7 linked regions of the Homo sapiens genome follow. The protein of the gene in region 1 purifies or fractionates together with the protein of each later gene. This does not show direct contact. Each region holds a gene or a part of one and is shown on either strand. Other genes may lie near its edges.

Region 1 (2,401 bases):
TCTTTAAAATTCTCATGAAAATTATGATATTCACGTGTTAATCAGACACCCTGGTAAAATTGTTTCTCTCATCCAAGTTAATGGCCAATTAGTGCTCCAGGACCTATCAGATTCATGAACTGACAGTAGTTGGGTGAGGAAGAGAATGAAAAGTGTCTCATTGTTGTCATTCTGGGAGCACACTGGAGGGTGGGCCTTGCATCTCTCTGTTTATTACAGGCCAACTCAGGAAATGAAAGGACGATTCTTATTTCCACTGCGGTTACTTTTGTGGATGTGTCTGCACCTGCAGAGGCAGGCTTCAGAGCTCCACCAGCCATCAATGCCAGGCTGCCCTTTAACTTCTTCTTCCCGTTTGTTTGACGTAAGTGAGGAAACTACGCCCCTCCTCTGAGGTCATCCCCTTTGGAAAGTGTGCACGTGGGGCTAGAAGTCCCTAGGGGATACTGCATTTTATACTTTTTGAGGGTCTCGCTTTGTTGCCCAGGCTGGAGTGCAGTGGTGTGATCATGGCTCACTGCAGCCTTGACCTCCTGGGCTCAAGCAATCCACCCACCTCAGCCTCCTAATAGCTGGGACTACAGGTGCACACCACAACACCTGGCTAATTTTAATATAGTTTGTAGAGATGGGGTCTTGCTGTGTTGACCAGGCTGGTCTCAAACTCCTGGGCTCAGGTGCTCCTCCTGCCTCGGCCTCTGAAAGTGCTGGGATTACAGGTGTGAGCCACCATGCCTAGCCTTATTATACTTCTAACCTTTGAGGTTGCCTCCAAACCAGCACACTGCCCTTCTCCACTCCCTTCCTGCCTTTTTTCCTTTTGGAAATGTTATTCTATCTGACTTTTGAATGGGGAATATGCTTAACACATAGGTCATAGATGATAGAACCCAAAAAGTCTTTGGGGAGATGGTAAAGAACATGAACAGGACTTGAAGCAGCAGAGGCAAGGGGGATTTGGCCAGTTCATTCATCCCCTGCTTTGAGTTATTTATTTTAAAAATACTCAGTTCAGGTTTTTTCCTTTTTGGGTCCGGTTGAAATGAGTACAAAAAAATAGCAAAATATTAGATAAAATCATGCGAGAAGAGCACACAGCCCTTACAAGGGGATCTTCCCCCAAATACCTTGTTAATTATAGTGGAGTCTTGGGTCTAATTGCCATTTCTGCACCAGGCACTGTAGCTAGCTTGCTCTCCGACTGGCAGGCTGGTATGGGTGCCACAGAGGAAAGAATACAGTAGGAGGGTCCAGGGAAAAGAGAGAGTTTATTTTATACAGTAGTTGTTTTATTTTATACAGTAGTTGTACAGTAATTGAGGAAAAATGTTGTCAGGTGGCAGAAAACAATGGAGCCACCTAGAAGCTGGCTGATGCAGCTGGGGCACACAGAGGAGGGGCCTGGGTACCCCTTTTGGGGAAACTGAGACGAAGCTATTTAGAACAGCTTGAAAATAAGAGACTTTTCTAGAATGGGGTGGCAGCTAAAGTAGCTTCTTTTTCTTTCTTTCAGAATGCTCAGATGCATCAGTTCCTTAATATACACGTGAAATTTGAAAACTGTACATTCGGTGAGATTAAATTTTATATACAACTAGCAATTGTCCAGCTTTGTTGCTCATTTTCAATTAAGGCTAAAGTGTTCAACATGAGAAAATGTGATACATTTGATACAGTGTGGGGTGGGAGTGGATGGGCAGCTCTTGGTGGTACTGGACCTTCCACAAGGCTGTGTCCACCCAGAATCCATGCTGGCAGGAGGGAGGCAGAGGTATCAAACCAAACCTCTCACCAAGCGGCCCAGGAGGGGCAGCTGTTCCTCTCGTGACAGCACAGGCCCATGAGACAGTGTCTTCTTTTTGAGGGGAGCTGGTCCGGGTCTAGTTCACTTCACCAAGAAGTCCATGCTGTCGCAATAGTTTGTTAAGTCTTTCAATTTCTTGTTCCTATTGCAAAAGCAGACAAACACTGGAATTTACTTTGAGCCTCGCCAGGGATGTGACAATCAATCATTCAGTGAGCCCCAGGCACAGGACCACAGAGATGAATGAAAGCTACGCTGTTTGTGGCATTCAGTCTGCTGAGGAGACTGCTACAATCAGATAGGCTTCACTGAGCAGCAGTGACAGCAGTGAGAAGACAAACGTGGGGGACCTGGCAGAGCCCTGGGATGTGGGGGTGGGCACAGCTTCAGGGAGGATGTGACGCCTGGGCTGGATCTGAAAGGACAAGGCAGGCTCAGCCCAGGGAAGGGCGCTCTAGGTGCATGAGCAGCGCTCTGCTGCAGGCGGGTGCTGCGGCAGAGGCCAGCTTCCCAGATATCTTTTTTTTTTGAGACAGAGTTTTGCTCTTGTTGCTCAGGCTGGAGTGCAATGGCGCGATCTTGGCTCACCACAACCTC
Region 2 (3,007 bases), on another chromosome or scaffold:
GAAGGGTCGCCCCCGGCTGAGGAGAAGACGAAGGGTCGCCCCCGGCTGAGGAGAAGACGAAGGGTCCTCCCTGGAACCCCTGGAGGCTGAGGAGAAGATGAAGCGTTCTCCCCTGGAGCCCTGGAGGGAGAGGCTCTGCCCACACCGTGACTTTGGATTGTGGCCTCAGGAACTCAGAGAACGAGGTTGTTTCAGCCCCGCAGTCGGTGGTGATTTGTTCTGGTAGCCGCATCCTTTGGGGACATGGGGTCACCAACCTGGGTTCAGACCAGCTCCTGGGCGTCTAGAGACTAGCTGTGGGCCCCTGCACTGTGGGCAGGCTGGGGCCACAGGGCAGGACCTGCATTAATGGAAATGCAGCAGCAGGCGCTGAGGGACAGTCGCCGGGCGGAGCAAGCGTGTCTGCCGAGGCAGGGTGGCGCCCTGGGGTACGTCCAGCGAGGCCCTGAACACGGGCCGTGGGCACCGGACCTGGCGAAAGACAGACTCCGGCTTCTGGCTGGTCGGATCCTCGTCTTTATTCTCGGGAACGGAAACAACCGGCGGCCTGAAAAGGACCAAAGCTCATCCTTTAAAAATAAAATGAAAATAAAAAACGTATTATTTGGCTCCAAAACTTCCGTCATGAGAATAACAACTCTGAATGGCACCTTTTCACACATCCACTGTGCCCAACGGCCAGTGCTTCACCCAACCGCAGGCCAGATGCCGTGACTCCTAACGTCTTTAGAGAACAGTATCAGACGGCACACCAAGGCGTTTTAAGACACGGGAATTTGTTTCCTATGGACATTTCTTTTTTACCAAAAAAAAATATAATAACTTAGTTTGCATTTTACAGCATTTCCAATCGGCCAGGGCATCCTTGGCTGGAAGCTCATGGGGTTGAGTGTGGCGAGAACGTCCACAGCTTCGGTACCAGGGTCAGGCCTGGGCCCAGGGCATGCGGCTCCCAGCGCGCGGCCCTCACCGCACGGCCCCACCAGGACCGCAGCGCCCACCGCAGCCTGTGACTCATCAGGAGAGGAAGGGCAGCGGCCCACGGAGTCAGTCCGTGCCAACCTCACAAGGGTTCAGCCCCCTCTCCTGGGCATCCCTGTACATCCTCTGGAAGTCCTTGAAGCGTGGGGCACAGCCGAGCCGCGCCTCCCCGAAGTGCATGTGGCCAGTGAAGAGGAAGTCGCCATGCCCCGGCCGCACGCCACACTCCAGCAGCGTCCTGACGCGCCCCTGCCAGTGGCCGTCACCCTCGGGCACCGGCTCGAAGACCCTGCTTTTCTGCCGATAGAGTCTGCTCACGCGCAGGTGGATGGCTGAGTCCTGCCGCTCAGGCTCGTGGGTAACTTGCTGGATGGAGCCTCGAACGGCTGTGCGGGGAAGGAGATGGGGACAGGGAGTGAGCAAAGGCAAGCACACAGCAAGACCACCGCACCTCCCCCTGCCCCCGCATCGATGGGCACTGGAACGGGCAGCTGACCCCCGACTCTGCCATCTAGCGTGGAAATTCCCAGAGAAAAGTACAATGTAACAGCAGAAAGCTGCCAAGGGGTGTCCCAGATACTTAGACATCGTCAGAGAACAGGTGCCCTTTCTACCAAGGGCCAGACCTGTTAAATGGGAAAACAGAACAAACAAGTCCAGCTGATACACAGGGTGCCCCTGCAGTTCTGTGTCCTGATCAGACAGACCCGGTGCAGCTCACAGGAGAGGGTGGGCATGGGGACAGCCTTCGCGCCACACTTGGAGACCCCTGCCCAGCCCCAACTCCATGCCAGGGGCCGGGAAAGCAGTGAGAAGGGGCCTGTCCTTGAGCTTGGAGGTGGGGTGCAGAGCCGGGGCCTGCAGGACATGGCTTCCACGGCACCACACGACGGGAGGCCAAACCTTTCCCACAGGGCGTCTGTGCAAACGCCACAAGCAAAGGGGCTGGAGCCCTGGGACCCCAAAGCTCCTCCTGCAGAGCCGCAGAGCCGCCGGGGGCCTCAGGCCTGGAACAGCGTGAACTCTGGTGGGGGGCAAGGAGTGTCCAACGCCAAGGATGCTCTGGGCTGCTGATAAAATGCTGTTTACAAAGCACTTCAGCAAGAAGAGCTGCTGGGAGACAGTGGACTTCAAGAGTCCCCTCGAAGAGCAGTGATCTCATTTACAAAATGGGAAAATGTTTGACAGTCACCAAAACAACCCCCAGCTCCCTCCAAGTGTGGGCGGTGGCGTCCCTGTCCCCAGGGCTGGTGGAGGGCCGAGCCCAGGGCTTCCACAGCGTGTGCCCCTCCAGGAGGGTCCACGCAGCACCGGAAGGCTGTCCTGGGCCCTGAAGAGGGACTCCTGGGCCCAAACAGCTCCATGTGGCAGAAACCAGGAGCACAGGAGGTAGAAGCTGCCGAGGAGACACTCACCGAAGTCGCTGGTGCAGACGGCTAGGAGCACCTCGGTGTCACTGCAGGGACGGCACGGCGCTGGAGAAGAAAGGCAGAGTCAGGAAGCAGCCTGGACGGGACAGGCTCTGGAACGCCGCCCACCACCGTCAAAGGATCCTCACACTCAGCAAAGCCAAGTCAGGGAGGGTGTCCACGTCAAGGCACCTTTGTGACCAACGCCACTTCAAATGTGAGTTGGCGGCACGTGCTGGAGGGGCCGGCAGCACGGGAGACAGAAAACACAACCTCGACCACGACGGGGTCTCACCCAGGGGACCCCTCGGCCCCACCTGGACCAAAGGCACCTGCACCTCGGCCATGATGGGCACATGTCCGAGAGCAAGACCCTCAGTCCGGCCATGTCCCAGGGCCTTCGTGGGGAGGGGTCTTTGTGCTCTTTCCCCACTTATCTCCTCAGTGCGGCTGAGCCGGACTCACTGAGAAATCGCTCACGTGCCTGTTGCAAATGCAAAGCCCACTGGGGCTGAACCGAACCCACCAGACAAGAGTCACCCCCAACCCACCTCCACAGCCCACGGCGCCGGGAGCACCCCCACCTCCCAGAGTCGCCCCCAACCCACCTCCACAGC
Region 3 (4,183 bases), on another chromosome or scaffold:
AATAATTACCTTCTGATCCCATGCTTTTCCTAAAGTATGAAGTATTTCCTGGTTTCCCCACCTGCCAGGCATGAGGCCAGCCAGGTGGAACATCGCATGAGTGGCCAGAAAAGGCAGGCGACAAAGGCCAGCTTGCATCTGAGGACGGAACTTGGCCCATCCCCAAGCCTGGGGGGCACCACCTGCGGCTGCTGGTGCCCCTTTCAGTCCCTGCTGCCACATCCTGTGAACCAGGACAGGGTAAGGCCTCCTTTCCCCAGCGGGCTCTTCTCAAAAGAGTTCCCCGGGAACAGCAGCCCTCGGTGTGAGTGTAAGGTACTTTTCCAGCGGAGCCTTCTCCCGTTCTTTAACAAAAAGCACTGTGTACCCACCAGGGGCAGGTGCCTCGGGGGTGGGGCAAGCGAGCCAAGTGTGCGACCCTCCTCGGCTTAGCGTCCAGTGGTGGGGCAGATAGTCAAAAGGGCATGCGATATAACAAAGCCAGGGGTAGGGTGGGGCTGGGGCTGGCTCTTTCCTGGTAGGGCCGCCCAGAGGCCTCTCTGCCACCTTCTCCGAGGCCTGCAGGGTCTGGTCCACCTCTGGGGGCACTGATTCCGGTGGGCGGTGGGCAGCCTGGCTTCCGGTCTGGTCTGCCCCCACACCCCCGCTAGGGCACGATAGGGGTCAGTTCTCCCAGCCCAGGCCCCGCTCAGCCCCACCAGGGCAGGGCGGCTGTCCTGAGTTGTTTCTTGGCTCCCTGCGTCTTCTGGGTCCCGGCAGGTGCGACAGGTGGGGAAGAACAGTGAATCCCTGCGCTCAGAGCACGCCAGCCATGGACGGAGGGCGGCCTGGAAAGGGGAGTTCCCGCCTGGGAAAGGGGCGCTGAGAAGGGGCCCTGAGGGTCTCCCGGCTCAGATTTGCTCCACCTGTGTCATAGAGGCCTGGGCCTTGCGGGGCGCAGCCAGGAGAATGGGGAGGGGGTACCTCGGGGGTCCCTGCAGAGGACGTGGGGGACAGAGCGGGGAGAAAGGATGCCTCGAGCCGTCTGGGAGGAGGCAGCGCCTGGCTCCCCGCAAAGAAAATGGGGTCGCGAGGGCCGAGGGTCCAGGGCTGGGAGAAGGGGCGCCTCGCTCCCCAGGAAGCAGAAGCGCTGGACAGCGCGAAGGAGGGATCCCAGAACCAGGAGTTGCAGGGGGGACGCGCCCAGCAGGGGAACACCCCTCGCTCTCCCTGCCCTGCCCCGCTCCCCGTGCCCCCTCCCCCACTCCCCCTCCCCCGCCCGGACACTCCCCCCATCCCCATGCAGCGCGCACGGGAGCCGGGAGGGGGCGCGGGCGGGCGCGCGGTCTCGGGCGAGGCGGGGGATTCAAGCGCGTTATAAGGCGAGGAGCCCGGGGCGTCCGAGACGCCGCGCTCGGAGCCGCGAGGGAACCGCCGCCCGCATGGCCCCGGCCCGCCGCCCCGCCGGAGCCCGCCTGCTGCTCGTCTACGCGGGCCTGCTGGCCGCCGCCGCCGCGGGCCTGGGGTCCCCGGAGCCTGGGGCGCCCTCGAGGAGCCGCGCCCGCAGGGAGCCGCCGCCCGGGAACGAGCTGCCCCGGGGCCCCGGGGAGAGCCGCGCGGGGCCGGCCGCTCGTCCGCCGGTAAGACGCCCGGGCCCGCTCCAGACCCAGCCCGCGCCCGCACGCCCCGGCTCGGGGCGGCGGGAGGCGGACGTGGAGGCCGAGCCCGCCCTCACCCCCGAGGGCTGCTGCATCGCCTGGCACCGGGGCTCCGGGGCTCCGCAGAGACTCAGGGCCGTGTAGACGCCGCCCTCAGCCCGGCGGGGCAGCCTTGACTTTGGCTTTGGGGTAGTTTGACTTAAAGCAAGGTTCTACTAGGTCGGCGAAACCCCCCTTTTCTTTTGGGACAGAAGGAAGTTGGGAAATAGATAAAGTGTAAATAACTTGATTTGAGGAAATTGGGAAGAACGCATTTGTAAAAAGTGTAAGCGAATTACTGCCACCGCCCCCAATCTATTTGGTGCAATTATCTGGAAAACAAAAAGTGTTTTCCTGCGGATCTGGGGTCGGGGGGCTGTGCAGGGTGGGGAATGACATGTGGCTTTGAGTCAAGTGATCAGGTGGCTTTTGGCCGTGAGTGGGTGATCTTGAGCTCTGCCCTGCCCCCTCCTCTCCAGGGTTTTGGAGCCTGGACTGCTGAGCAGAGGGTGGTCCGGTTGGGGAGGTGTGGCCCAGGCCTGAGGAGGGGAGAACTTCAGAGGAGCCCTCAGTGTGGCCGGGCCTTGGGTCAGGGAGACAGGGCTGCCCCAGGGAAGCCGGGGTGGGCGGCCGGTGCTGTTTATTCTGAAGATGCTCAGGGGCAGTAGAGGGGAGAGCCAGGAACGCATCTACTAGAGAGGACAGGGGTGCAGCCAGGCCTGGGGTCCCCCAGAGTTCTCTATCCCGGCCCCATCACACCCAGCCACTTCCCAGGGACTGAAGGCACCCCCTCCCCGTGCAGTTGGCCAAACCACCCAGGTGGGCACAGCAGCCAAATGTCAGGGCACTGTCAGCAGGAGGCAGACGGGGCTCAGGGGCTTCCAGGTGGAGTTTTGGCCTTGGACCCTGTTTGTGGGGGACACAGTGACACCAGAGGTCCTCCCAGGCTCCAAGGCTTGTTTCTGAGAGACCCCTTGTGGCTGGAACCAGGGCAGCTGCCCAATACCCACCCCCATTGCTGGGGCCGTCTCCTGGGACGCCACCTTCTGCCTGTTACAGCTCTACCTGCAAACCACACTGGGGTCAGGGTCCGGCCACAGGCCACAGGTGCAGCTGGGAGGGTCAGCTGGGCACACCCCTCCTGGCCGGTGTGCGGCATCCTCGCCCCATGTTTCCACGGAGGGCACACAGGAAGTGGAAGAGGGTCCTGGGAGGGGGTAGAGGGGAGATCAGCCAGCAGGTGGTGCAGTTGACCCTCTAAGGCACAAGGAAGCACTGAGCAGCGCTGAGGGCCCTGGGCCCCTGAACCCTTTCTCCGCCCAACCACAGGCTCCTCGGCACCGCAGCCCCCATCTTCCCACCACAACACCCTGGCCTGCGCATTGGTCAGCCAGCTCCCAAAAGAAGGCCCTGCATCCCCCCAGATCAGCCAGGAACCAAAGGCAGTGACTTGGCAGCCGGCTTTGTCTCTGATAAAAGGGCCCAGTCAGCTCTAAAATCCCAGGGTCCTTCCGTCAGCCCCCAGCGTCAGCACCCATGACCTCATCTAAGCCCTCTTGGGCCGGTTTCCTTCCCAGCTGGCAGCCTTGCCTGGAGCCCAGATAGCCCAAGGCCTCTCCCAGGAAGGTCCCTCCCAAAACTGTGCTCAGTGTCAGCATCAGTCAGGATGCAGCGCGGACAGGAATGGGAACTTCCGGAAGCATCACTGTCCATGTGTCAGTGTCTCAGAAGTGCTGAGGAAATGAAAGTCTCACACAGAGGCCTCGCGTCATGACAGCTCGCCTGGTCCTCTCCCCCACTGGACTGTAACCCGAGGCAGCTGTGAGAGCTGAATTTGCCTCCTTAGAACTTCTGACACTGGGGGAGGATGGACAGAGGAGGGTTGGCTAGTAGTTGGGCTCCCTGATAATCACAGTTGCTTCTTCCTGAGCACCTATGGGTGCTCCAGTGGTCGGATCCTCCTGGTGACTGGAGGACGGTGTGATCACTGCAGCTCCTCTGGAGGAAGGAGGCCCAGCAGTACGGGGATTCACCCCGATATCCAAGCCCTGCACCCCATTTTCCCTCCAGGCATCTTGGGTCTGCCTCTCCCATGAGTGCCAAGTCCAGGCCGAGGTGTGGCCCGTTCCCTAGGAGTCATCCTCCACGGGCCGGGGGAGAAGCTGTGAGGGGTTGGGGCCCCTTTGGGAGCTGCCTTTGAGGGCACCACAGGTGACAAGGACCAGGGTCCCAGAGTACAGAAGGCCACACAGTCACCTCCTGCAAAGTGTCCCACCTGCTTGGTAGGAGCCCAGTGAGGCCAACCGCCCTGCTGGGCTGGCTGTGTTCCAGGAGCCCACCGCTGAGCGTGCACACAGCGTCGACCCCCGGGACGCCTGGATGCTCTTCGTCAGGCAGAGTGACAAGGGTGTCAATGGCAAGAAGAGGAGCAGGGGCAAGGCCAAGAAGCTGAAGGTGAGGCCGGCATCCCGTCAGTGCCAGGCCGTGGGGGGTTCCGCCTCCTCGCT
Region 4 (2,515 bases), on another chromosome or scaffold:
TTGTAGGCAAAGTTGTTTAAGGAGGTCCTGTCACATTCAGTGGCATCCGTTATGATAAAGCCAATAGGCTTTTACACTCATCTGTCCATTTCTGTCAAGACCCTATGGCTGAGGTCAAAACAATGTTCTGGGAGAACCAGTTACCTCTAACCTTCCAATTCAGACACTGCCAGCTTAACTATGTAGAAACTGGCACACAGACCCTGTTAAGTGCTGCAACAATGACAGCGTTTCTATGAATTTGTTGGTACATGTGGGACTTTAGCTCATCTGAGGAGTCGAACAGCAGCTGTGAAAGTCTTCTACTCACTCCCTGTCGAGGCTGGCCTGGTTTGCTACACAAACACGGTGGCCCTAGGACCATGGGGCTATTCCTGCAGACGCCCTCGGGAACCAGCTGCTCTGAACGTGGTGGGGGTGTTGGAGCAGCAGTTTCTCAAAAGTCCACACACAGTTAAAGCTCTGAAAACAGCACGACGCACAGAAATGATTTCAGATGCTTTTCAGTAGCCACTTTCATGCCAACTCTTTATTTCCATAATAGAAAATCTTTTATTTCCACCTTTAGTGTTCCCTGCTAGAATAGATGACCACAAAACCCAGGCCAGAAACGTTCTGGTCTGCCGTGAACAGTCCAGGAGGCACTTGTTCTGCTGCTGTGGAAGTCGCCCTGACTCGGGGAGGAAGGGACACGCAGGTGGTATCAGTCTTGCTCAAGTAAACAGGCTGTTTTCCAAACATTGTGACTTGGCTACTGAGTGGGGATACCTGGTTTCATTGGCAATCTTCCAGTATCTCTCTCGCAAAAGGAACGCTGCACTTTTTGGTTGTCTCTGCCGAGTGAAGATCCCCTTTTTATTCCCCAGCACTCTCGTCGGTGCTACAAAAAAAAAAAAAAGACACAAAGCGATTCAGATGTCTTCTGATGGGTCAAGTTAGAACCAGTCTGGAGCTAAGGTAGGCACTAAATAGAAATGTCTTTTTTTTTCTTTTTTCTCCCTGTTGCCCAGGCTGGAATGCGGTGACACAATCATAGCTCACTGCAGCCTCAACCTCCTGGGCTCAGGCAATCCTCCTGCCTCAGCCTCTCCAGCACCACCATGCCCGGTAATCTTTTATTTTTATTTTTTAGTAAAGACAAGGTCTCATTATGTTGTCCAGGCTGGTCTCAAACTACTGGGCTCAAGCAATCTGCCCTCCTTAGCCTCCCTAAAGTGCTGGGATTATAAGCACAAGCCACCATGCTCAGCCAAATGTCCTCTTACAGTTTCAGGATGCTTGCTCTGAAGTGACAATTTATGGGTTGAAATATTTAAATACCACTGCTCTGCCCAAACACCCAGGTTCCCTGGTGTGTTAATTTCTAGTTTTCTAGTCTGTTAGGGGAAAAAAACCCAAAACAGTGGCCAGGTGTGGTGGCCAACGCCTGTAATCCCAGTGCTTTGGGAGGCTGAGGCAGGTGGATCACCTGAGGTCAGGAGTTCAAGATCAGCCTGGCCAACATGAGGAAACCCGCCTCTATTAAAAATACAAAAACTGGCTGGGCACATTGGCTCATGCCTGTAATCCCAGCACTCTGGGAGGACAAAGCAGGCGGATCACAAGGTCAGGAGATTAAGACCAGCCTGGACAATATGGTGAAACCTCATCTCTACTAAAAATACAAAAATTATACAGGCATGGTGGTGGGTGCCTGTGGTCCCAGCTACTCAGGAGGCTGGGGCAGGAGAATCGCTTGAACCCAGGACGCAGAGGTTGCAGTGAGCTGAGATTGTGCCACTGCACTCCAGCCTGGGCGACAGAGTGAGACTCCATCTCCAAAAAAAAAAAAAGCACTAAAAGTTTATCTTTTATTTGCAAACTAAGGTTTACATGCTGGGTACCCAGCTGTCTGGTAACTGGGTAGGCAGAGGGCTAGGGGTATCTGGGACAGTTACCCTTGAAAAGCCTTGGGCCTTTCTGAAGAGATAGCGCCTAGTGGGAGCCAGGGTCCTGACCAGCCACAGGTCCCTGCGTGGGACCTACTCATGGAGTTCAAAGTCCGCCGGGGCTGACGTCCAGCTTGGCAGCACCCACCACTGGTGGTCATTAGGCCTGAGCTGAGCCTGGTGGAGGAGCACAGCTGGCAACGACCTGTCAGGGCTGTGCTCTCAGGACATTCTCTGTCCCCAGTAAGACCACCACTAAATGGAAATGTTAAATGGAAAGGGGGCTTTCCCCACCAAAAGGTTCAAGACTGTTTCTTCCATAAGTGAACACAGGCATCGCCAAGTACTTCATCAAATGCAGCCCTTACGACACCAACAAGGAGGTGGCATTATCCCCACTGGACAGGCTTATGAAAAGCTTAGGTGACTTGCCCAACGTGATGCAGCTCATTTCTTTTTTCTTTTTAAGACCGAGTTTCAGCTGGCCATGGTGGCTCATGCCTGTAATCCCAGCACTTTGGGAGGCCCAGATGTGCGGATCACCTGAGGTCGGTAGTTCAAGCCCAGCCTGACCAACATGGAGAAAC
Region 5 (3,674 bases), on another chromosome or scaffold:
GGTTTTCCCCTGTCATCTATATTCTTCTCACTCTTCCCAGTTGAGGGTGCTGGGTGCTGGAGGGACCGCAGGGGGAAGTGGCTCTCTTGCTGTTTCTGTTCTGGACGGGGATGGTCAGCATGGGTGATGGTACTTTCAGTGCACATGATTTTTCTACAGCCTGGCTGCGCTGGGGATAACATTTCCATAGTCTTCTTTATTTTTTTCTGAGACAGGGTCTTGCTCTATTACCCCGGTTGGAGTTAGTGGCATGATCATGGCTCACTGAAGCCTCGACCTCCTGGGCTCAAGTGAGCCTCCCACCTCAGCCCCCAGAGTAGCTGGGACCACTGGTGCACACCACCACGCTCGTCTAAAGAATAGTTTTTGTAGAGATGGGGTCTCACTATATTGCCGAGGCTGGTCTGGAACACCTGGGCTCAAGCGATCCTTCTGCCTAGGGCTCCCAGCGTGTTGGAATTTCAGGCATGAACCACCACGCCTGGCCTCCGTAGTCTTCCTTTTTTTTTTTTTTTTGAGACGGAGTCTCACTCTTGTCACCCAGGCTGGAGTGCAGAGGCGGAGGTCTCCTCCGCCTCCCAGGTTCAAGTGATTGATTCTCCTGCCTCAGCCTCCCGAGTAGCTGGGACTACAGGCGCACACCACCACACCCGGTTAACTTTGTATTTTTAGTAGAGATGGGGTTTCACCATGTTGGCCAGCCTGGTCTTGAACTACTGACCACCAGTGATCCGGTTGCTTTGGCCTCCCAAAGTGCTGGGATTAAGGCATGAACCACTGCCCAGCCTCCATAGTCTTCTTGACACAGAAACCAAGCCTCATGCAGCCCACATGCTCTAAAGGGCTCCTGCCTCACTCCTTGTGCCTCAACCTCCCACTGCACATCCATGCCTCTGGTGGCTGCTCACCTGACCCCACCTCACAGGGGTGGCCTATTGCTTGGTCAGCAACTCCAGCCCAGCTCCTGCCTGGCCAAACCAGAGACTGTCTTTGCTGTCTGGTGGCCAAACTGCACGTTGTCCAGAGGTCTGACTCCTTCCAAGCTGGTCCTTTCTGGGTACTTTCCTTCAGCCCTAGAGTACCAAATAATTTCCTACATCTTACAGTTTACTCTTTAAAACGGTTTAGGCCGGGCACATTGGCTCACGCCTGTAATCCTGGCACTTTGGGAGGCCGGGGCAGGCAGATCACCTGAGGTCAGGAGTTCCAGATCAGCCTGGCCAACATGGTGAATCCCCGTCTCTACTAAAAATACAAAAATTAGCTGACGCAGTGGTGCATCTCTAGTAGCAGCTACTCGGGAGGCAGAGGCTGGAGAATTGCTTGAACCCAGGAGGTGCAGGTCGCAGTGAGCTGAGATCTTGACACTGCACTCCAGCCTGGGCGACAGAGTGAGACTCTGTCTCGGGAAAAAAAAAAAAAAGTTTTAAAATTGAGATATAATTCACAGACCATAAAATTCATCTTCCAAAGTTTTTAATTCATTGGTTTCTAGTATATTCACAAAGTTGTGCAACCATCATTCCACAATTTCATCATCTTCCAAAGAAAGCCCGTCCCTGTTAGCTGTCATGCCTCTTCTCTCTTCCTCCAGTACCTGGCAACCACCAATGTGCTTTGTCTCTGATACACAGATTTGCCTATTCTGGACATTTCACATAAACTCGTGATTGGCTTCTTTCACTTAGCGTAATATTTGTAGGATTCACTCAGGCTGTGGCATGCGTCAGAATTTCCTTCCTTTTTATGGCCAAATAATATTCCATTGTATGGACAGAACACACTTCATGTCTTAATTCATCTGTGGATGGACATTTGGGTTGTTGCTACCGTTTGACTTTTGAGTAATGCTGCTATGAACGCGGGAGCACAGGTATTGTGTGGATGGATGTTTTCAATTCTCTTGGGCATAGACCTGGGAAGGTTATACTTTTATTGATATTAATAGTTCTGATATTGGACATCCCTGCTGTGTGGTTTCACCTCTCATGGACTCTGACGGCTGCTGTGCCTTCTCTGCTCGGCAGGCGGTGCCCTGAGGCACAGGTGGGCGTCTGGGGCTGGAACTCTCGCTAGGCGCTACAACTTCCTCTCCTGCCCTGTGGCAGAGCCAAGCCCCTTGCAGGGCTGTTGCCAGCATGGGATGAGTCTATGAAAACACGTGGCACGCAGTAGGTCCACAGTTACCACTGGCAGCCTGGCAAGCCTGGCAGGGCCCGGACGGCAGATGCGCTTCGGTGCTGCTGTGAGTCTTGTGCTCTGCCTTAGGCAGAAAGTCCTGGGTTTGTGTTTTGTGAATGAATGACGCATGAGTGTGCCAAATATCCTTTACGTGACAGAAGAGGAGAGGGCTGGCTTGATTGAGTGTGGGGGGGAAGAACCTGGATCTTGTAATGTAATTTTTGTTTAAAAAAATTAGGGAAAAACCCCAAATATGACCATTTCCTGCCATTAGCCTGCAGATGAGCAGCTGACTCCCCAGTCCCATCCCTCCGCACTGCTTTTCCCTGTCCTGGGTCTGTTCTGTTACATGGAGTTCCTGGGGGAAGCCCTGGGGCCGGGGCATCTGCCCAGGGCTCACTGCTGTTGAAAGTGAATAAAGAACGTCCGGATTTCCTTTGGGTGGACGGTGATGATGGGGCCTCCTGGTGGCCTCGAGGGAGAGGTGGTGTCACCTAGGGGAACAGAGGTGATCTGTCCAGTGTGGCCTGGGATGCCTCCTCCCAGCCTCCCTCTCACCCCCTGCACCTGTCTACAGTCTGCTGTGGCTCCCAGCCTCCCTCTCACCCTCCTGCACCTGTCTACAATCTGCTGTGGCTCCCAGCCTCCTTCTCACCACACTGCACCTGGCTACAGTCTGCTGTGGCTCCCACCGTGGCAACGGCCTATGGCATCCCCTTCTGCCAGGACTCCTGTGGGCCTCTTGGCGTTTCTGCCCACCCTGAGGGCAATTCATAGGTTGGTCCTGGCCCTAGTGGCCTCAATTCCTCATGGGTGTTGCCCTCAAAGCCCAAGAGCTTTCTGAGACCATCTGGTGAGTCTGCCCTTGCCTCACCAGGCTCCCCTGAAGGCATGCCCTGGGGTTGGGCTTCGATCTTGGGAGGGAGCCGTCCACTTATCTATCACTCATCCATCTTCCTTCCTTCTTTCCAACCAACATCATCTTCCCTCCCTCCCTCCCTCCGTCCCTTCCTTCCTCCCACCACCAACTGAGCGTGCACCATGCACCCGCCACCATGCTGTGTGTAGTGGACAACGAGCTGCACAGGACAGAAGAAACCCCTGGGGCCAGGAGAGTGGAGGAGGCACTTGGCCTGGTTGGTGACTCTGGGGAGGCATCCTGGGGAGCTTGAGCAGGTGCTGGCCAGAGTGAATGGGACCTGTGCGTCCCAGGCAGAGGGCATGGTGCGGACAGGGAGTGGAGCCTGGAAGCTGCCTGTAGTGCAGGAGCTCACGGTGGCACATGTCGTATGAGGCAGGGACCGGCTGATGGGCTGAGGTCAGCAGGGCCAAGGTGGGCAGAAGCCCCTGGGCCCCTAGCTGTCACCCAGGGCACAGGCAGGGCGTGTGGTCTGCGTGTGCACACGTACAAGTGCACACACACGCCTGTGTGGAGCCCTGGCAGGCAGAGACTAACCCAAAGCCTTTCTTAACCGACTGTAGTAGATTTGGGA
Region 6 (3,500 bases), on another chromosome or scaffold:
CTGGCACTTGACCTGAGCCCCAGGCTCACACCTCTGCCCACAGGCCCAGCCGCTGCTTCACGTCCAACTCCATCCCCCACCAAGCACTGCCCCTCATCAGCTACTGGGGTACCACTAGTGCCCCCACATGGTGCCCCCTCTCCAGACCCTCGGGTCCGGCTGTAGCTTCCTTCTGGAAGCTATACCCCAAGACCCCAGCCCTGCTCTAGGGCCCTGTATCCCCGACTTTCTGCATCCTTCTCCCTCCTTCTGGGAACATGAACTTGCCCTGCCAGCCTGGCGGCTCCTGGAGGACAGGACACTAGCGCCTGGACAATGGCAGGCCCGGGAACGTCTGCTGCCAGTGATGCTGGAGCTGGCATCCATGTCCACATGATGTCCATGGCACAGCGGCCACCTGAGGCTGGGGGCATCTGAGTGGTGGCTGCAAAGTTGGGCCCTTACCTCTGCCTGAGTGAAGTTCACCAGGGCCTCCCCTGTGCTGTCCTGCTGGGCGTGGAACAGCCGGCCTAGCTGGGGGCCCCGCACCACACGGTAGAGCAGGAGCTGGGGGTCAGTGCCTGCGCTGGAGCTGGCCCTGAGGGTCTGACTGCTGAGTGGCTGGACGGACCCTGCCAGAGGCAAAAGGGGATATCAGATTTTGACTGGGAGCCAGGTCCAGGCCTGTGTTTGCAAAGAGGCAGCGTGACCCTGGCATGCCACCCTCAGCTCCGCCCCAGCTCCTGGCACCCAGGAATGCCCATGATCAGCACACCCACCTGGGCAGACAGTCAGTGTCTGGCTGCCCTTCAGCGAGAGGAGCACTTGCTTCTGGGCCGTCACTCGGAAGAAGTGTCCGGGGGAAGTGTGCTCGCCGTCAGAGAGGCGGAAGCGGAAGCCTCCATCCAGGGTTCCTGGGGACAGGGGCATTGGGTCCAGCTGGCCCGAGCCGGCTCCCCATCTCAGGGCACCCCCGTGGGCAGCAGGAACCCGAGGCCCGGCCCTCAGCACCCACCTCTGTGTGAGAACAGCACGAGCCCGCCGTCCAGCTGGGCCTGCGTGAAGCTGCGCACCTCAGTGCCCGGCGCCCCCCGCAGCACTACCCGCCCGTTGCTGGGCTGCTCGATGGTGTAGACCAGATCCTCAGACCCAGAGTCGCCGTCCGTGCTCCTCAGAGCCTCCGCAGGGATGGGCGCAGTGGCCCCCTCCCACATCTGGGAACACAGGCCTGTGAAGGTTCTGCCTTGCCGCACTCACCCACCCCTTCCTCCCCGGCCCTGGGCTGCCACCAGGGCTCCAGTCCTGCTGCGGCTCAGCCCCTCGGGTGGCATCGAGGCTGGCGCCACTCTGGCTCCCCTGCACAAAGGGCCTCCCGCATTCACCTTCCCTGTCACCCCAGGGAAGGCCCCAGGGAAGGTCACCCTCCAGGCCCAGCCTCCCTGCTCTCCATCTGCCCTAGTCCTGTGTGTCCCTCAAGGCCAGCTTATGTCCCCTACCCAGGAAGGCCCCAGCTCTTACCCTCACCAAGTTCTCACTCCCAGAAACCCCCAGCGCTGACCAACAGTGCTCCCTAATCTGTCTCACTGGTGGGACAGGGGTCTCCTTTCAGAGCCTCCGTGTGTGCCTGGCCGGGGCCGGGCACAGGTGGGAATGGTGATTTTAGAAATGGGCCCTCCTTCCAGCTGAGGGAGGGGTGCGTGGCGCAGAGAGTGGGGGGCTGATGGTTGGCACTGTTCTGCAGCACAGAATCAGCGTGGGATGGGCCCAGGTGCTTCCAGAGCAGTTAGGGGCCCTCCTTATGTTGGGCAAAGGGGACCCCTTTTTCAGGCCTCCCACTTGCAAGCAGAGCAGGTGCCTGTTCCTGAGGTCCTGGTACCAGTCTTGCTGGGTCAATTACTTGCGGGCAGAGCTGCAGTGGGACTCACATGCCCGGAAAACAGAGCCTTCTGGCATTCCTGGGCTTCCTCCCCCGGCCCCAGGGAGCCCTCAGGCCCAGCCCTGGCAGGAGGGGCCATAATGTTGCGGGGCAGGACCCCAGCACTAGGCTTCTGGAGCAAACACAGGTAGATGGCACCACCTGGTGGCTGTGCTGCCACACAGCCGTCCTGGCCTGTGGTTCCAGAGCACTGTGTCCCACTCTTTGGCGGCTTCCGCACCACCAGGCCACCCGCTACGGGCACATCCTAGACCACCAAGGCCCCGCCCCCACCCCCGCCCCAGGCACCCCATGCCAGAGACAGCCCAAGTCAGCCCTTTATGGAAACTTCAGTGGCTCCTGCTGACCGGGGAGGATGCACCCCAGAAGCTGGGGTTCAAAGCCCTGCCATGTGGGCTTTGTAAAGCCATGCCCTTTCTGTTCCACCAGAACTACTTTTGCAACCATGGAGAAGTTCCATCCCACGTCTGGGCCTCAACTTCCACCTGCAGAGTGGGGCCCTTACCTCTGCCTGAGCGAAGTTCACCAGGGCCTTCCCTGCACTGTCCTGCTGGGCGTGGAACAGCCTTGTGCAGGAGTTTGGGGAGCCAAGCCATGGCCTTCACTTGCTGGGTGAAGGTGGGAAACTTAACAGCTTCCGCCCTGATGCCTGCCCTTAAGGGCTTGTAAGTGATTCTGTCAGATGTTCTGGTCCTTAGCCACAGAAGAAGGAACAGCAGAGCCACCCGTGGCCGCTCAGAAGTCTGCCTACCATACTTGCAAACATCCAATAAAAAAACTTCCCACCTGTGTTCTATTTCAGCACAATCTCACTTCTCTCCTTCCAACAACCCCGTGAGGCATGTGGCAGCGTCCCCATTTTGCAGAGGAGGAAACTGAGGATCAGAGCTGGGGGAGCTCTGAGCCGCGAAGTAGGGGACGCTGGCCTCTTTCTCGAAGCAGACATGGGGGTGTTCCCAGGGATGCTCTCACCTGCAGGCCTGTGTTTGTAGTGAGGATGGGGGGTTGGTCATTGACAGGCAGGACAGTGACAGTGAAGGCCACAGGATGGCTCTGGCGATCCATCTCGGAGGCATTAGCCATCAGGACAAAACTGTCTGTCAGTGTCTCGCTCCCGTCATGCACGTAGCGGATCAGCTGCTCTTCCACCTAGGGGCAGGCCCAGGGCTGGCAGTCAGGCCCCAGCAGCACCCTTCATGCCCTGCCTTTGGGTGCAGGAGGAGACTGACTCTTTTAGGGCTTCATTTTCCATTGGTAGAAAATGGGGACCATAAGTTCTGGCTCCGAGGAGTTGTGAGGAAGAAAAGATATATGGTATTTAAAGCATAGGTGCTTCTGAAATGTGACTCCCCGTCTCCTCTCTGTGTATAACCCCCAGACTGGGAGTCCCCAGGGCTCCCTCCACTCTGCCCCCAGAGCTGGGCTGCAGCCCCTGGGCCTCTCTCACAGCCATACCATTCTCCAGGAGAAGGCGCTGAGGGTCCTGGCTTGAGGTCCGTCCTCCTTCTGCAGGGCTCCATGCTGGGGTGGCTCCAGCACCTGCAGGCTGAGGCCCAGGAGAGTGGGGAAGTAGGGCCCGGAGACA
Region 7 (4,232 bases), on another chromosome or scaffold:
CTGCCTCAGCCACCCAAGTAGCTGGGATTACAGGCCCCTGCCACCACGCCCGGCTAATCTTTGTTGGCCAGGCTGGTCCCGAACTCCTGACCTCGTGATCCTCCCACTTCAGCCTCCCAAAGTGCTGGGATTACAGGCGGGAGCCACTGCGCCCTGCCCTGGAGCTGTTTTTCTAACAAGCACTCAGAAGCACCTCCCTCCCCACCCTCCTCCAAGCCTGGACCCACCGTATGTCTTCCCGTTTGGTCTACAGAAAGGATTCTGGGAGATAGCAGGATTCTAGGTGGAGGAAACTTTTTATTTGGCTGACACTCTGAGGGGATGGGGGGACAGGGATGGGGAAAATTAATGAGCCAGACCAGGATGGATTCCTTTGGGTAGCTCTAATCTTTCGTGCCCACCTCAGCCCCAGCAGGCAGCATTTCTCAAATCCTAGCTTTCGGCGACCCTCCGGCCGCTGGGGGAAGGAGGGGTGACAACCCCACCTCCTCCTGGCTCTGGCTGCTAGGAAGCTCTTCCCTGAGTTACCAATTCCTCCGCTGGCCCCTTCTCCCATGACCTCTGACGGGGCATCCAAAACTCAGAGCCAGGTTATTTATAGATAAGCCCAGAGGAGGTGGGGGAAAGGCCAGTGTTTACAAACATGGGTCACCTGAGTCTGAGCGGCCACGAGAGCGGTCTGGGGGAGGGGCGAGACCGGACCCTGTGGATCTGCGACCAAGGGCTCTGTCTCTGGCCCAACCCCACTGAAGGCGAATGGGGAGAGGGCCCAGAGCAGGCAGGGAGTGGGCGCTGCTCAGATGCTGGAGCACGTGGCCCAGGGTGTGGGCCAAATGCAAACTGTATGCAAATCGCAGTGCTCCGGGGGCGACCTCTCGGCCGGCGGGACCCCCGCGGGGCCCCTGGCCTGGTGGGCCGGGGACCAGGGGCCGACCGGGTCAGGGCCCGCCTGAGGGAGAGGCCGAGTCTCACAAGTTTCCTCCCCATCACTCACAGCCAAAGAGGGTCCCGCAGAAAGACCCCGCAGGCCTTGAGAAAGGGAATTGCTCCTCAGTCCCTGCCCTGGCGCGCCCGCTCCCGGCCCCGCGTGCGGCGCTGGGAAAGGGGTGTCGGGTTACCAGCGCGGGGGCTACAGTTAGCCTCGAGAACCTTTGCTTTCAGCCGGACTCCGGACTCCTCCGGGGACAGCGCAGCGCCCGCCAGAGCCCTCGGCGCTCCCTCCCGCTGGCGGCTTCCGCAGCCTTCAAGTGGGTCCTCCGCCCCCGGCCCTCCCCTCTCAGGCGGAGCCAAACTGCGGCCCCGCCTTTACAGTCTCGGAAAGGTCCCCAGACTGGAGGCTCTGAGGAAGGGGTGTGGGGAGTCGGGGGCGGAGACTTGGGGCGGGGGGCGGGCAATAAACTCCCAGGCCCCGCCCACGCCCCGCCGGGGCCCTAATCCTGGACCCGGGATCCCGTGCGCCTGGAGACAGGGTCCAGATCTGCCTCCAGCCCCTCGAAACCAGGACTCCAGCACCTCTGGTCCCGCCCTCACCCGGACCCCTGGCCCTCACGTCTCCTCCAGGGATGGCGCTGGCGGCTTTGATGATCGCCCTCGGCAGCCTCGGCCTCCACACCTGGCAGGTAACTCCAGGAACCATCTCCTAGCCCCAAGGGGGACATTAAGGGACAGACCCTGAGGAAGTGGACCCGGGGCTGACTCCTCACATCCCTCTCCCAGGGACTCTTCCCTAGGATTCCACTCTTAACTCTCTTCCTCTCAGGAACCTCCATCTCTGCAGGGAGCCCCAAGTTCCCATTCTGTCTCCTAGAACCCCCATCTCCATCCCTCTCTGGATGCCTCCAACGTTCTCCTCCCCACCTCTCATCTCCCAGCGCAGGCACAGCCCGGCAAAGCCTCCTTGGGTTACCTGTGTGCTGCAGTCCTGGCAGCCCGTCCCAACCAAGGCTTGGCCTCCCCACCACCCCTACCCCAAATGTGGGTACAGAGCAGGGGAGGACTCAGGCGTCTCAGAGCTCACAGTGATTTGGTGTGGTGGCTGAGCACCTACCTGCAAGGGCTTCCTGCTGGATGAGAGGGAAAGAGAGCCCGAGGAGAATGGGGCTGGGGGTTAGGCAGCTGGACACTGGCTGTGTGTAATATTTGCACATCACCTGCCTGCCAGATCTTACAGCCGGAAAAGTGCTTGATAGTCATCTAGTCCCACCTCCCACCGACTGCAAGAACCTTTCTAATGACAGGATGACCCCTTTTAGGTTGTACAGAAGTAATGCTCTTTATGCTGTCTTCATAATAACTGTGAGGTTGGAAGTATCCTCAAGTCCAGAAAAGTTATGACACTTGCCCAAGGCCTCACAGCTAATAGGTGGTAAAGTCAAGATTTCAGCCTGCGCGCGGTGGCTCACTCCTGTAATCCCAGCACTTTGGGAGGCTGAGGCTGGTGGATCACTTGAGGTCAGGAGTTCGAGACCAGCCTGACCAACATGGTGAAACCCTGTCTCTACTAAAAATACAAAAAATTAGCTGGGCGTGGTATTGCGCACCTGTAATCCTAGCTACTTGGGAGGCTGAGAGAGGAGAATTGCTTGAACCCGGGAGGCAGAGGTTGCAGTGAGCCAAGATCGTGCCATTGTACTCCGGCCTGGGCAACAGAGCGAGACTTCGTCTCAAAGAAACAAACACAAAAACAAATTAGCCAGGCATGGTGGCATGCACAGGTAATCCCAGTTAGTTGGGAGGCTGAGGTGGGAGAATCACTCCAACCTGGGAGGTGGCGCTTGCAGTGAGCCGAGATCTCACCACTGCACTCCAGCCTGGGCAACAGAGCAAGACTCCATCAAAAAAAAAAAAAAAAAAAAAAGATTTCAGTCCATGTCTGACTGACTCCAGTGCCTGTGTTATTTAAGCCTCTTATTGGGCCCTTGCCAAATTGCATATACCTGATATTTAGGGATAGAAATGAGATTCTGTGTTTCTGGATGGGTTTGCCCCCAGGACCCATGTCCAGTGCTCTGAACTTATGCTCTTTTCGGTGTGGCACCTCTTTTGCTCCACAGGCCCAGGCTGTTCCCATCCTGCCCCTGGGCCTGGCTCCAGACACCTTTGACGATACCTATGTGGGTTGTGCAGAGGAGATGGAGGAGAAGGCAGCCCCCCTGCTAAAGGAGGAAATGGCCCACCATGCCCTGCTGCGGGAATCCTGGGAGGCAGCCCAGGAGACCTGGGAGGACAAGCGTCGAGGGCTTACCTTGCCCCCTGGCTTCAAAGCCCAGAATGGAATAGCCATTATGGTCTACACCAACTCATCGAACACCTTGTACTGGGAGTTGAATCAGGCCGTGCGGACGGGCGGAGGCTCCCGGGAGCTCTACATGAGGCACTTTCCCTTCAAGGCCCTGCATTTCTACCTGATCCGGGCCCTGCAGCTGCTGCGAGGCAGTGGGGGCTGCAGCAGGGGACCTGGGGAGGTGGTGTTCCGAGGTGTGGGCAGCCTTCGCTTTGAACCCAAGAGGCTGGGAGACTCTGTCCGCTTGGGCCAGTTTGCCTCCAGCTCCCTGGATAAGGCAGTGGCCCACAGATTTGGTAATGCCACCCTCTTCTCTCTAACAACTTGCTTTGGGGCCCCTATACAGGCCTTCTCTGTCTTTCCCAAGGAGCGCGAGGTGCTGATTCCCCCCCATGAAGTCTTTTTGGTTACCAGATTCTCTCAGGATGGAGCCCAGAGCTTGGTGACTCTCTGGAGCTATAATCAGACCTGTAGCCATTTTAACTGCGCCTATCTGGGTGGTAAGCTGTGCATGGGGGAAGCAGGACTGGCAGTGTGGGTGAAATAAGCCAGGATGTCCTTACACAATAATCCCCGGGGCCTTCGGGAGACCCACTTGGTTAAAGGGGAAATGAGGGCTGGAAGTCAGCTGGAGTTGCTGTCCTCTGTGACTCAGGTTTTTTGGGGTCCTATAAGTGTTTTCTAGATTCGTGAACATTCTTAGATGATTCTATATGTCCTCAAAAGGGTCCATCTGCTACATGGTCTAATAGACCAAAAGAACCTGGTTAAGGAGATTAGCAAGCAGCAGAAAGAGCCAAGGGGACTGCTTCAGGTCTCAGGGGGGCCCTGGGCTCGATGGGGCTGACAGGGCACGTATGTGCCATTCCCAAGTGCTAAGGCAGGGAGAGATGGAAGAGTGACTGGGTCTTGGGTGGGAAGAGGGATGGAAAGGCAATCTGGAAAGAGT

What was found.
Region 2: the proteins of TCTN1 (region 1) and METRNL purify together in Homo sapiens (affinity purification with mass spectrometry; one large-scale study listed by BioGRID and IntAct). This does not show direct contact.
Region 3: the proteins of TCTN1 (region 1) and ERFE purify together in Homo sapiens (affinity purification with mass spectrometry; one large-scale study listed by BioGRID and IntAct). This does not show direct contact.
Region 4: the proteins of TCTN1 (region 1) and GUSB purify together in Homo sapiens (affinity purification with mass spectrometry; one large-scale study listed by BioGRID and IntAct). This does not show direct contact.
Region 5: the proteins of TCTN1 (region 1) and MAN2B2 purify together in Homo sapiens (affinity purification with mass spectrometry; one large-scale study listed by BioGRID and IntAct). This does not show direct contact.
Region 6: the proteins of TCTN1 (region 1) and CSPG4 purify together in Homo sapiens (affinity purification with mass spectrometry; one large-scale study listed by BioGRID and IntAct). This does not show direct contact.
Region 7: the proteins of TCTN1 (region 1) and ART5 purify together in Homo sapiens (affinity purification with mass spectrometry; one large-scale study listed by BioGRID and IntAct). This does not show direct contact.

Annotation. Positions count from the first base shown.
Region 1 is NC_000012.12:110,647,530-110,649,930, forward strand, and holds the end of TCTN1 (tectonic-1 isoform 1 precursor), read left to right. Parts: intron 1-219; coding exon 220-363; 3' UTR 364-364; intron 365-1,156; exon of another isoform or gene 1,157-1,513; 3' UTR 1,514-1,880; downstream 1,881-2,401. Other genes in the region: HVCN1 (voltage-gated hydrogen channel 1), read right to left, coding at 1,881-1,946. UniProt on the Homo sapiens protein: Component of the tectonic-like complex, a complex localized at the transition zone of primary cilia and acting as a barrier that prevents diffusion of transmembrane proteins between the cilia and plasma membranes.
Region 2 is NC_000017.11:83,092,616-83,095,622, reverse strand, and holds the end of METRNL (meteorin-like protein isoform 1 precursor), read right to left. Parts: intron 2,457-3,007; coding exon 2,397-2,456; intron 1,368-2,396; coding exon 1,048-1,367; 3' UTR 501-1,047; downstream 1-500. UniProt on the Homo sapiens protein: Hormone induced following exercise or cold exposure that promotes energy expenditure. Induced either in the skeletal muscle after exercise or in adipose tissue following cold exposure and is present in the circulation.
Region 3 is NC_000002.12:238,157,587-238,161,769, forward strand, and holds the start of ERFE (erythroferrone precursor), read left to right. Parts: upstream 1-1,383; 5' UTR 1,384-1,421; coding exon 1,422-1,619; intron 1,620-4,007; coding exon 4,008-4,130; intron 4,131-4,183. UniProt on the Homo sapiens protein: Iron-regulatory hormone that acts as an erythroid regulator after hemorrhage: produced by erythroblasts following blood loss and mediates suppression of hepcidin (HAMP) expression in the liver, thereby promoting increased iron absorption and mobilization from stores.
Region 4 is NC_000007.14:65,960,184-65,962,698, forward strand, and holds the end of GUSB (beta-glucuronidase isoform 1 precursor), read right to left. Parts: intron 881-2,515; coding exon 714-880; 3' UTR 501-713; downstream 1-500. UniProt on the Homo sapiens protein: Plays an important role in the degradation of dermatan and keratan sulfates.
Region 5 is NC_000004.12:6,620,189-6,623,862, reverse strand, and holds the end of MAN2B2 (epididymis-specific alpha-mannosidase isoform 1 precursor), read right to left. Parts: intron 2,676-3,674; coding exon 2,578-2,675; 3' UTR 501-2,577; downstream 1-500.
Region 6 is NC_000015.10:75,681,849-75,685,348, forward strand, and holds part of CSPG4 (chondroitin sulfate proteoglycan 4 precursor), read right to left. Parts: coding exon 3,371-3,500; intron 3,065-3,370; coding exon 2,888-3,064; intron 1,194-2,887; coding exon 995-1,193; intron 894-994; coding exon 759-893; intron 612-758; coding exon 445-611; intron 1-444. UniProt on the Homo sapiens protein: Proteoglycan playing a role in cell proliferation and migration which stimulates endothelial cells motility during microvascular morphogenesis. May also inhibit neurite outgrowth and growth cone collapse during axon regeneration.
Region 7 is NC_000011.10:3,639,193-3,643,424, reverse strand, and holds the start of ART5 (ecto-ADP-ribosyltransferase 5 isoform a precursor), read left to right. Parts: upstream 1-1,432; 5' UTR 1,433-1,562; coding exon 1,563-1,619; intron 1,620-3,053; coding exon 3,054-3,783; intron 3,784-4,232.